Linked DNA regions of Homo sapiens: regions 1 and 3 are each linked to region 2. The links come from fine-mapping of genetic effects on gene expression. Tissue or cell type: fibroblasts. Region 2 holds a variant in brackets; each other region holds the start of a gene. All regions are shown on one strand. Distances are from middle to middle.

Region 1 (2,687 bases), 230 kb before region 2:
TCTAATTTTACTGCCAGTAGTATCCAGGGGTGGATTTCTTTGTTCTAATTACAAATGGAACTTGAGCTAGATCAAAGGCATTTTAAGAAGGTCAAATTTTACTTCTCTGAAAAATAAAGGGTGTTATCCCATGTAATTAATTAATGCTTAGCCATGCCCTTTGGCGCATTATCCGGTGGCTGCAGAAAACCAGAGCCAGCCGTTCCCACCTGTTGGTGCAGTGAAACTTACTTACCCAAAAGAGCAGATTGAGGGCGTAGAGCAGGCAGCGCAGACACTTCACGGAATCTTCTCTGGCCATTGTGAGCCCCGTAAGGGAGAAGCCCCATCCTTTCACCACATCCTACTCCCAAGGGCAAAACGGCAGCGATCTGCAGGGGGCGGGGGAGAGAGAACACGGGACATCTCACCATCACGCTTCCCACAGCCTGCCCGTCCCTCCTCCACCCGCCCTCAGCAGGGTCCAGAGGGTCCCGAGGCCCAGTGCATTCGAGACATCGCCTCATCAAAAATCATTTGTTAAAATCATAATGGTAACTAAACTCCCAAAAGTTCCAAACCGGCTTCAGATAACACCTGCTGGGAAAAGAAAAGAGCAACTATCCGGATGAATGAAGTCGCACAGTAAACTCGCGTTCTCAGGGGACACGCGGCGGAGCCCTGTGCATTCTGATGAGACGCTCTTGAAAACCTCCCTCACTCCACGCCCCTCCTCGAGGACAGCTGTGCTCGGCACTGTCCTGAAGGTGAGAAACCACACTGCCCCCTACCCCGGACACGTCAGAGGCGCCACCGGCAAGCCCGAGAGAATGAGCGCCCTTCTAGTTAGGACAGTTCCTGGGCACTCCAACTCCGCACCCCTCTACCCCGTCCCGCAGCTCGGGTGTGAATGCAAGGGACTGGGGCGGCGGGGCGGGGGCGGGGGCGGGGGCGAGGGGGCAGCGCGGAGTTGAGATTCCGCCCGGCTACTAGGGTTTCTCTGGGAGAACGTGAGAAATGATGTTTTCGGCCCCAGAATGATGGATTAGCCTGGGACAGTGGGCGGGGGGCGGGGGGCGCCGGGGAATTAGGGCCGATGCAGCTGTGCAGACGCCGGGTTAGTCATTCAAACCCCGCTTCCCCCGCCCGGGACGCTCCCGCGACCCCTCGCTCAAAGCCGCCCGCGGAGCACAAAGCGAGCGCGGCCACCGACCCAGCCATCGCGTCCGCGCGCCCCCGGCAGGGCGCGAGGGGAAGCGCCGGCGGCAGGGAGCCCCAGAGCCAGCCCTTAAGTAGTTTAGCACACAGCGCGGAGGGCAGCCGCCGGCGGGCTGGCGGGACAGCGGGCAGGAAAGGCGACAGACGCGTGGCCACTTACCGTCGGCGCTGGGCCCGGTGCCCCACGCCCGCCTGGGGATAGTCGGGGACGCACGGCGGGGGCTCATCGGGGCAGGGAACTTCTTCGCGGAGAGCCGGAGGGCTGCATTGGCTTCAGCTGGAGACGCTTCTTTCTCTTCCTCTCCCCCCGCCGCCGCCGTCGCCGCCTCCTGGGAAAAAGAAAAAAAAAAAAAAAAGTCCTGGGCAGCAGTTGCTGGAAAGTCTCTGCTAAGCCACCTCCCAGCGCCGCTGTCCCTCCCAAGTCCTCTCCGAGTCCGGACGAGGCAGCGGCGGCAGCCAGGGCCAGCTGCACAAACTCTCAGCGCATGCTCGAGCCGCTGGCTGCCGGGGTTGGGTCCTAGTGGGTGTTTCTTGTCCCTCTCACCCAGCGAGAGTCCCCAAAGGGACGCTTCACCTCTGCAGGATAGGGTCCAGAAGATAATGCCTAGGAACTTGGGAGAAGTCCGTGCAGTAAATCCCTTTAAAATGGTGGCGTCGAAGGAATGGAGGCTGGGTTATAAGCATAGAGAAGCAGGCTTTTATTATATGATAATATTTGTGTTTGAGAAGGGGGGTGAAGGGGTGGCCCAACCCAATTCCTGCAATGAGAAACTAGTTTTCACAACCTTTATGGAGCCACCTCCTGTGATTTGTTATTAACATGGTGCCCTATGATCCTTCTTATTGCTTTGTTGCCCTCCCGGATTTTTTTTTTTTTAAGTTCTTTCCCACTTTCATAGTGCACTAATAGCATTTACGGAAACATCAGAGTAATCATGTGCAGTCTGACATGCAGAAGAGGAGGAAAGAACATTTTTAACTCTTAGAAGTAACTCAAGCTTTCCAAAATTTCTCACGATAAGATTGTTTTGAGTTAACTGGGTGATTTATTTTGAAATGTGTACATAGTAGTGGATCTTTGGAAAATCTAATTTTTTTAAACTAGAAATTCATGAAGTATTACACAGCAGGAGACCATCCTTCCAAAAGAATCTTCCCTTTTAGAAGACAGAAGTTTCACACTAAATAAAATGCCACTGGATCATATCCTCCACATAAAATGTGGATGTGTTGTGCTATGCCTCACAGTACTGCTCATTTCTAGGATTACTTTTGTGGGCACTGCATGGCAAATAAAACTTCACCAGCAAATATGAATTACCTGGAATACGAGCAACATCTTTGACCTAATAACTGGAGTCCTTGGATTTCCTTGCAGAAAAAAAAAAAAAAAAAAAAATGGAATCCTATGTCCATGACTGCCTGTCTAGAGTTAGTTGCTGCATGACTGGAGTGACAATAAGACATGCAGTCTCATATGGAAAAGTCAA
Region 2 (2,687 bases):
ACTGACCAAGCCCGACCCTGCTTAACTTCCGAAATCAGACCAGATTGAGCACTTTCAGGGTGGTATGGGACTGTAGTCTGTGCTTCAGCTTTCTGTCTACAATGTAGGGATGATCAGGACTCTGTCTCCTAGGGTTGCTAAGAGGACAGAATGAGTTAATACATTTCAAGTACTTGGAACAATGCACAGTGAGCACCCCATAAATGCTGAGTATTATGATTGTTTTTTCAATAAGTATCTCCAGAACTGTTAGTTTATAATTAGTAGCTACGACTTTAATCTAGTTTGGTGAGACTCATGTTTTTAAGACTCACTAACCTGGAGATAGAACTTGGATTCTAAAATCATTACAAAAATATTTCTTTGCCTCTACCTACATTTGCTATTTTCAGGCTCCTTCCCCCTAATATCCTGTTACTAACCACTACTGAGTCATCATAAAGCAATTCTCTCACTCCTATCAGACTCCAAATTCTCTTTTGAAAATAGATATATATTCATTGACACCTGGTTGATCCAGAATGAAATATCTATAACTCGCCTATCCACATAATTTTAACAAACCAGTATAATACCCCAACTCTTTTATAAAGGAAAATTAAGGTGAAAGTAATTTATAATATAACAACATGTATTTCAATGTGTAAATATTTATGCACGATTACACCATAGGGTGTAATGAAATAGTCAGATGCTTCCACTCATCTGTAGAATCACCATGAATGTGACAGCTACAAATTCAAATTGCTGTGGTTGTATCATAGAGGGAAACTAAGATTCCATAGGTCACATTGCTATTGGTGATGTGCCTTTCCAAAATGGAAACAGCTCTGGAGAAAGTCACAAATAAAGCAAAGCTTAGTGTCCCCTTGCTTGGCCATGGAATTTCATTTCTGCAAAATTCAGTATGTAATAAAACTGATTAAAATGAGTAAAACTGAGTTTATATGCAAAACCACATCAAGCTCTAGGTTCAAATAATTACCAACTGGCTTTTCATCCACATCAATATCCATTGAGACATTCAAAAGTTATGTGGGACAGGGGACAATGTGTTGTTGCACAGGGTGATACTCAGCATCGTAGCAGCTGTTGTGGTATGAGAATGAATGCCTAACCATTTAAACAGATGTTAGACTTTATACCTTACCAGTGCATTCCAAAGAAATACCAGATCTATCTTGCATAAGGCACAAATCTATTTGTGGCCTTTATCCATTAAATTTCAGTAGCATTGCTCATCGTAGTGACGGCCCCAAATGCTCCCTTTGTCTCAGAGATCACTTCCTATGTATTCATAAGTACAATCCTCTCATACTTGTTACAG[CTA/C]TATTCACCGTTTACTCCACTTCTGCTGGAGTCCCCCATGGCCATCTGCTGCTGATGTACACCACTGCTCATGCCCACCAAAGGCACTCTGCCCCTGGGCTCCATGTGGCATCGGTCCTGCTGCTGCAGCTGCCTGTGTCTGTGCTGAGGTGCCATGTCCAGGGTCAGGGACAGAGATTCATGCAGTACCTGCTTCTCCTCCTGCTGCTGCTGAAACAAACTGCTGGTGTACATCCCACTGTACTAGTCATTGTCCTGCCCAGGGCCTGTCATCCCTTTAGTTTTCCAAAGCCTGAATAAGTAAAAAATAAATTGGATTTTTTCAGTTCAGTAGGCAAAATCCTTCTTTATTATTTTTTTCTATTGTATGTAATATTATAGTCTCAACATCTCACAGATAACTTGAAAAAAATGTTTTAGTATTGTTTTAGCTTTTGACCTAAACCCTGGAGTGGAAGTGGAGCCTGTGGAATACAAGAACAGCATACAAAAAAGTGCCTTTCTTTTTTGTCATCCTGGTATCCTTGGGCTTCTCTTGCCATCTACCTCTTTTTTCTTTAGGAGAGATTCCTTACTATTAAACCTCATGCATAGTTCTGCCAGTCAAGGCCAGACACAGTGGACTCCTTATTGAACATGGATTAGTTTCACACTAAAACTGCACTATACTGATAAATAATAACCGAATAGCATCTTGTCATCTCTCATTGACGATAGGGTTTAAAAGAACAACAACAAAAAATAGATGTATTTTCTACCATTTCCTATTTGGGGGGTTGTCATGGTGTGTTTAGTACCCCTGGGTTTTAACAATGTCCCGACTGAGCCTGAAATATTTCTCCCGAACAGAGTTTGGATACAGAGCTGAATTCAACCTTCACATATAAAGCCGTAACTATTTATACCATTGTGATCCAAATATTGCAGAAGCAGGAAGGTTTACTTTGAATCTAAATACAGAATTGAGAAGAAAGGGAGGAAGATGACATGGTTGAGTAGAAAGGTTATGCTTAATCTGTCTTCTTCAGTTCAGTATTTTGTAATGTTTCTGTTTCTACATTCCTTCCCTCAGTCCCGTGTAGGTCAGCCCAGCAGCCAATTTTAGAACAGTTTTGTGTCATTTAAGGGAAAGAACTTTCAACTGTATTTGTAGCAGGCTATAAAAAGCAAAGATACCACCCACAAAATGATATCTAAATTTTTCCAATTACGTGATTTATTGGTAAATCTACACATTTGTTGTGCCAAGAGCAAAATGAGAAATGTGCCAGGTGTACTCAGAGTTTTAATTAAGGAAACCTTACCTAATGGAAAGATTTTAATAAGGTATTTTGTTGTTTAAAAGCCATTGAAACAAC
Region 3 (2,687 bases), 97 kb before region 2:
TCCACTCCCTTGGACTCAGTGGTTAAAATGGGAAATGGGGTTCTTTAATCTACTAGAATCATTTCTGGGATACTAATTTTCCACCTTCTTCCCAATTCCCATTATTTGAAGTCTAGCTATATTATCTTAAAATTTTCAATACTGTTGTCTTTCATTTCTCCCAACCGAATGGCAATTTTATTTTAGCATCTGATTTACTTTCTTCTGTACCTTGTTCTCAACAATTTAATAAAGCATAAGAATGACTCTTTAGATTCCCCAAACTCTGTTTTTCAGACTTCTTGCCTTAACAGAACTTAATAGAACTGTCTGCCTATTCCTTATCACTCAGTAACAGCATTGTCACACCCTGGATTCCAATTTAGAAATCTCACAATTCTTATTATCTCTCAAATCACATTGCATCCACCAAAACGATATGTCCTACAACACCACTGTTCAGCCATTTTCTCTTAAAACTCTTTTGGCTTCTAAAAGTGAAGCATCACTTTATTTTTCTCTATCCCATTTGTCATAAGATTAAGGACTCTGAACCTATACATAAAATAATATTAAAGCCACTGGAGGCGATACATGCAAGGGCTTGGGATAAATCCAGCTTCCGTGTGAATATTTCTTCTGTAATGTGTTAATTAATTTGTTCTATAGGATGTTAAAAGGGTTTCTTTCTCACAAGCAAGGAACTCTAGATGCCCATTTCTCTGAATCTGTGCTAGCTGGGCACCCCTAGGGGGCGCTCCGTCTCTCAAAATACAAGGGGCTGACAGCAGCGTGCCTCTGGGTGAGGCTCACTCTAGGGGTGTGGCCTCACGGAGAACCTCAACCCACAAGAGTTTGGCTTAGAAACAAGTTTGAAAACCTCTTCAGGTCCAGAGCCTTTAAATAATGCCTGCTATGCGCTAAGACAGCCCTGGGTATCCAGAGTTCACAAAGCAAGGACTGATTTCCTTTCGCCTTGACAGCCTCAGCAAAAGTGGAAGGGGGTTTGCAGAATTGCACTATTAGCAGCGTCCACCCGAAGGTCTGCACAGAATTAGACTGAGCTGATTCTGGACAAAGCCCACTGTGTACCTTTATCTACTGGGCAAAAGTTACCCCCAACACCTGCTATAATCGACTCATTTTAGGAGCAAAATGTCAGGCCATGAAGCATCAGATCATTGAAAGACCCAATTAATTAGTCCAGGAAAGGAGTAATAAGAACATCTGTGATCTGAGTTCCATACTAAGACACAGAGAGACGACTGAGTTATTCTGGTGCTTGCTGTCTGAGGTCCAGACAGTACTTGTGACCCTCTTATCCTCAGAAGAGTAACCACAATTCCCTGGAGTGAAGAATATCCCAATTCACTCATGGAGTTCACTTTAGTCTCATTCTCGACCTTTGTCACCAATTGGCTAAGGCTATTTGTTTTTCCAATTCTGTATTAGGAAAAAGAAGTTGCACAGAGGATCAGACATCAGATACGTTTCTAAATTCTGCAGCTCTGGGTGGGCAGCCTCATTTGGGGAAATGCTAGCTGCTGTTTCCAAAGTGGGGAAGCCCACGGTTTCGGACACAGGGCTGACAGCGCTGCTCCAGCAGCCCCCAGGGCCAGAGGAACCCGGCCTTAGCTCCGCCCCGCTCTGCCCGGCCCCGGGTGGCTGCGATGCCGAGGTCCTCTGCTCCCGCCGGGCGTGCAGCGGGCGCGCGCGCGTGTGTTTATGTGTCTGTGTGCGTGTGTGTGTGTGTCTCTCTCTGTGTGTGTGTGAGATGAATTGGAGTCATACGACTGGGTGTTTCCTTCCGAGTGGTTTTCATCAGCAATCCATTAGGAAATCATGGAAACTTTTTTTTTCCTGGCTAAAAGGATGAAAACTGAGTAAGTACATAGAACTTTGAACTTGAGACGGAATGAAACAAATTCAAGCAAAAACCCTGACAGTAACCATGTCCATTCAAATTGCGTATGCCCTTTTTATGTTAAAAGCCGTGAATACTTACAGGACAGTGGGAATTTAAAACTAAATGAAGGGAAGCATACAAAAGGCTGAAAGCAAGACTGCTTTAAAACCGGAGGAAAATTGAGGAACTGCTAAGGCAACCTGGCCTGAGTTCAGCTGTGCAACAGGCACTTTGGGTTTTAATCTTTTGCGTTCTTCAATGCTGTTTTCAGACTCCAGATATACTTTGGTATTGTTTTCTCTCTTCCTGCAAAGCTGAGGCAGAGTCGGACTCCTTTACTGTGAGTTGAAAGATGTGAGAATAAGGCATTGCTGGAAGCAACAGTTTGGCAGCCTGGGGTACACTCAGGTTATTCGTTACAACTATTATTATTTGATGTCTTTTTTTAAACTCAGGTCATCCACTTTTGACTGTCATCCATGGAAGAGCTCTTATTAAAAGCCTCAGACTTTCGGGACCTATGATTCTTTGGCACAACCTTTTGGAAAATTCTTAAGCAGGGATGAAGCAAACTTGATTGGAGTTGGGGAAAAAGAAGACAGATTAGTATTTTTCATGCTGACAAAAAATAGCTGCTATGACTTTTCCCGCAACGTGGACAGGGGCCAAGTGAAGCTGAACTGGTCATGGTCTGTCGCCCAGTGTTCCCTTGTCGTCGGCGATTTTGCCCCCGACCCTTCTTGGTGGGCTTAGTGGTGGCAATCTGTCTCTTCTACCAGACTCTGACCCTCCGAGGGTCGAG

Which allele goes with the higher level. Alleles are on the strand shown, and positions count from the first base shown. SD is a standard deviation of normalised expression in the study named.
With allele C in place of CTA in region 2, the expression in fibroblasts of the gene that starts at base 1,682 in region 1 is higher (small effect, 0.22 SD a copy in GTEx).
In carriers of allele C in region 2, the expression in fibroblasts of the gene that starts at base 1,661 in region 3 tends to be higher than with CTA alone (large effect, 0.79 SD a copy in GTEx).

What was found. PIP is the estimated chance that this variant, and not a neighbour inherited with it, causes the effect.
Region 1: TSPAN12 starts here. The variant in region 2 is fine-mapped to the expression of TSPAN12 in fibroblasts (GTEx, PIP above 0.99).
Region 3: it holds the start of CPED1, and the variant in region 2 is fine-mapped to the expression of CPED1 in fibroblasts (GTEx, PIP above 0.99).

The regions. Positions count from the first base shown.
Region 1 is chr7:120,856,463-120,859,149 of GRCh38, forward strand. TSPAN12 (tetraspanin 12) reads right to left here and starts at 1,682. Exons shown (of 8, transcript NM_012338.4): 1 at 1,358-1,682; 2 at 236-371. The coding sequence starts at 301. It overlaps LOC124901733 (a long non-coding RNA gene), which reads left to right and starts at 373. Exons shown (of 2, transcript XR_007060491.1): 1 at 373-746. RefSeq lists silencers at 625-844, 1,037-1,336.
Region 2 is chr7:121,083,742-121,086,428 of GRCh38, forward strand. All of the region lies in intron 5 of CPED1 (cadherin like and PC-esterase domain containing 1), which reads left to right. It also overlaps the pseudogene RNA5SP241. Among named protein-coding and RNA genes, the nearest start is that of CPED1, 96 kb to the left of the region's middle. The variant CTA/C (reference allele first, on the strand shown) is at 1,328.
Region 3 is chr7:120,987,051-120,989,737 of GRCh38, forward strand. CPED1 (cadherin like and PC-esterase domain containing 1) reads left to right here and starts at 1,661. Exons shown (of 23, transcript NM_024913.5): 1 at 1,661-1,862; 2 at 2,341-2,687. The coding sequence starts at 2,572. RefSeq lists an enhancer at 837-916.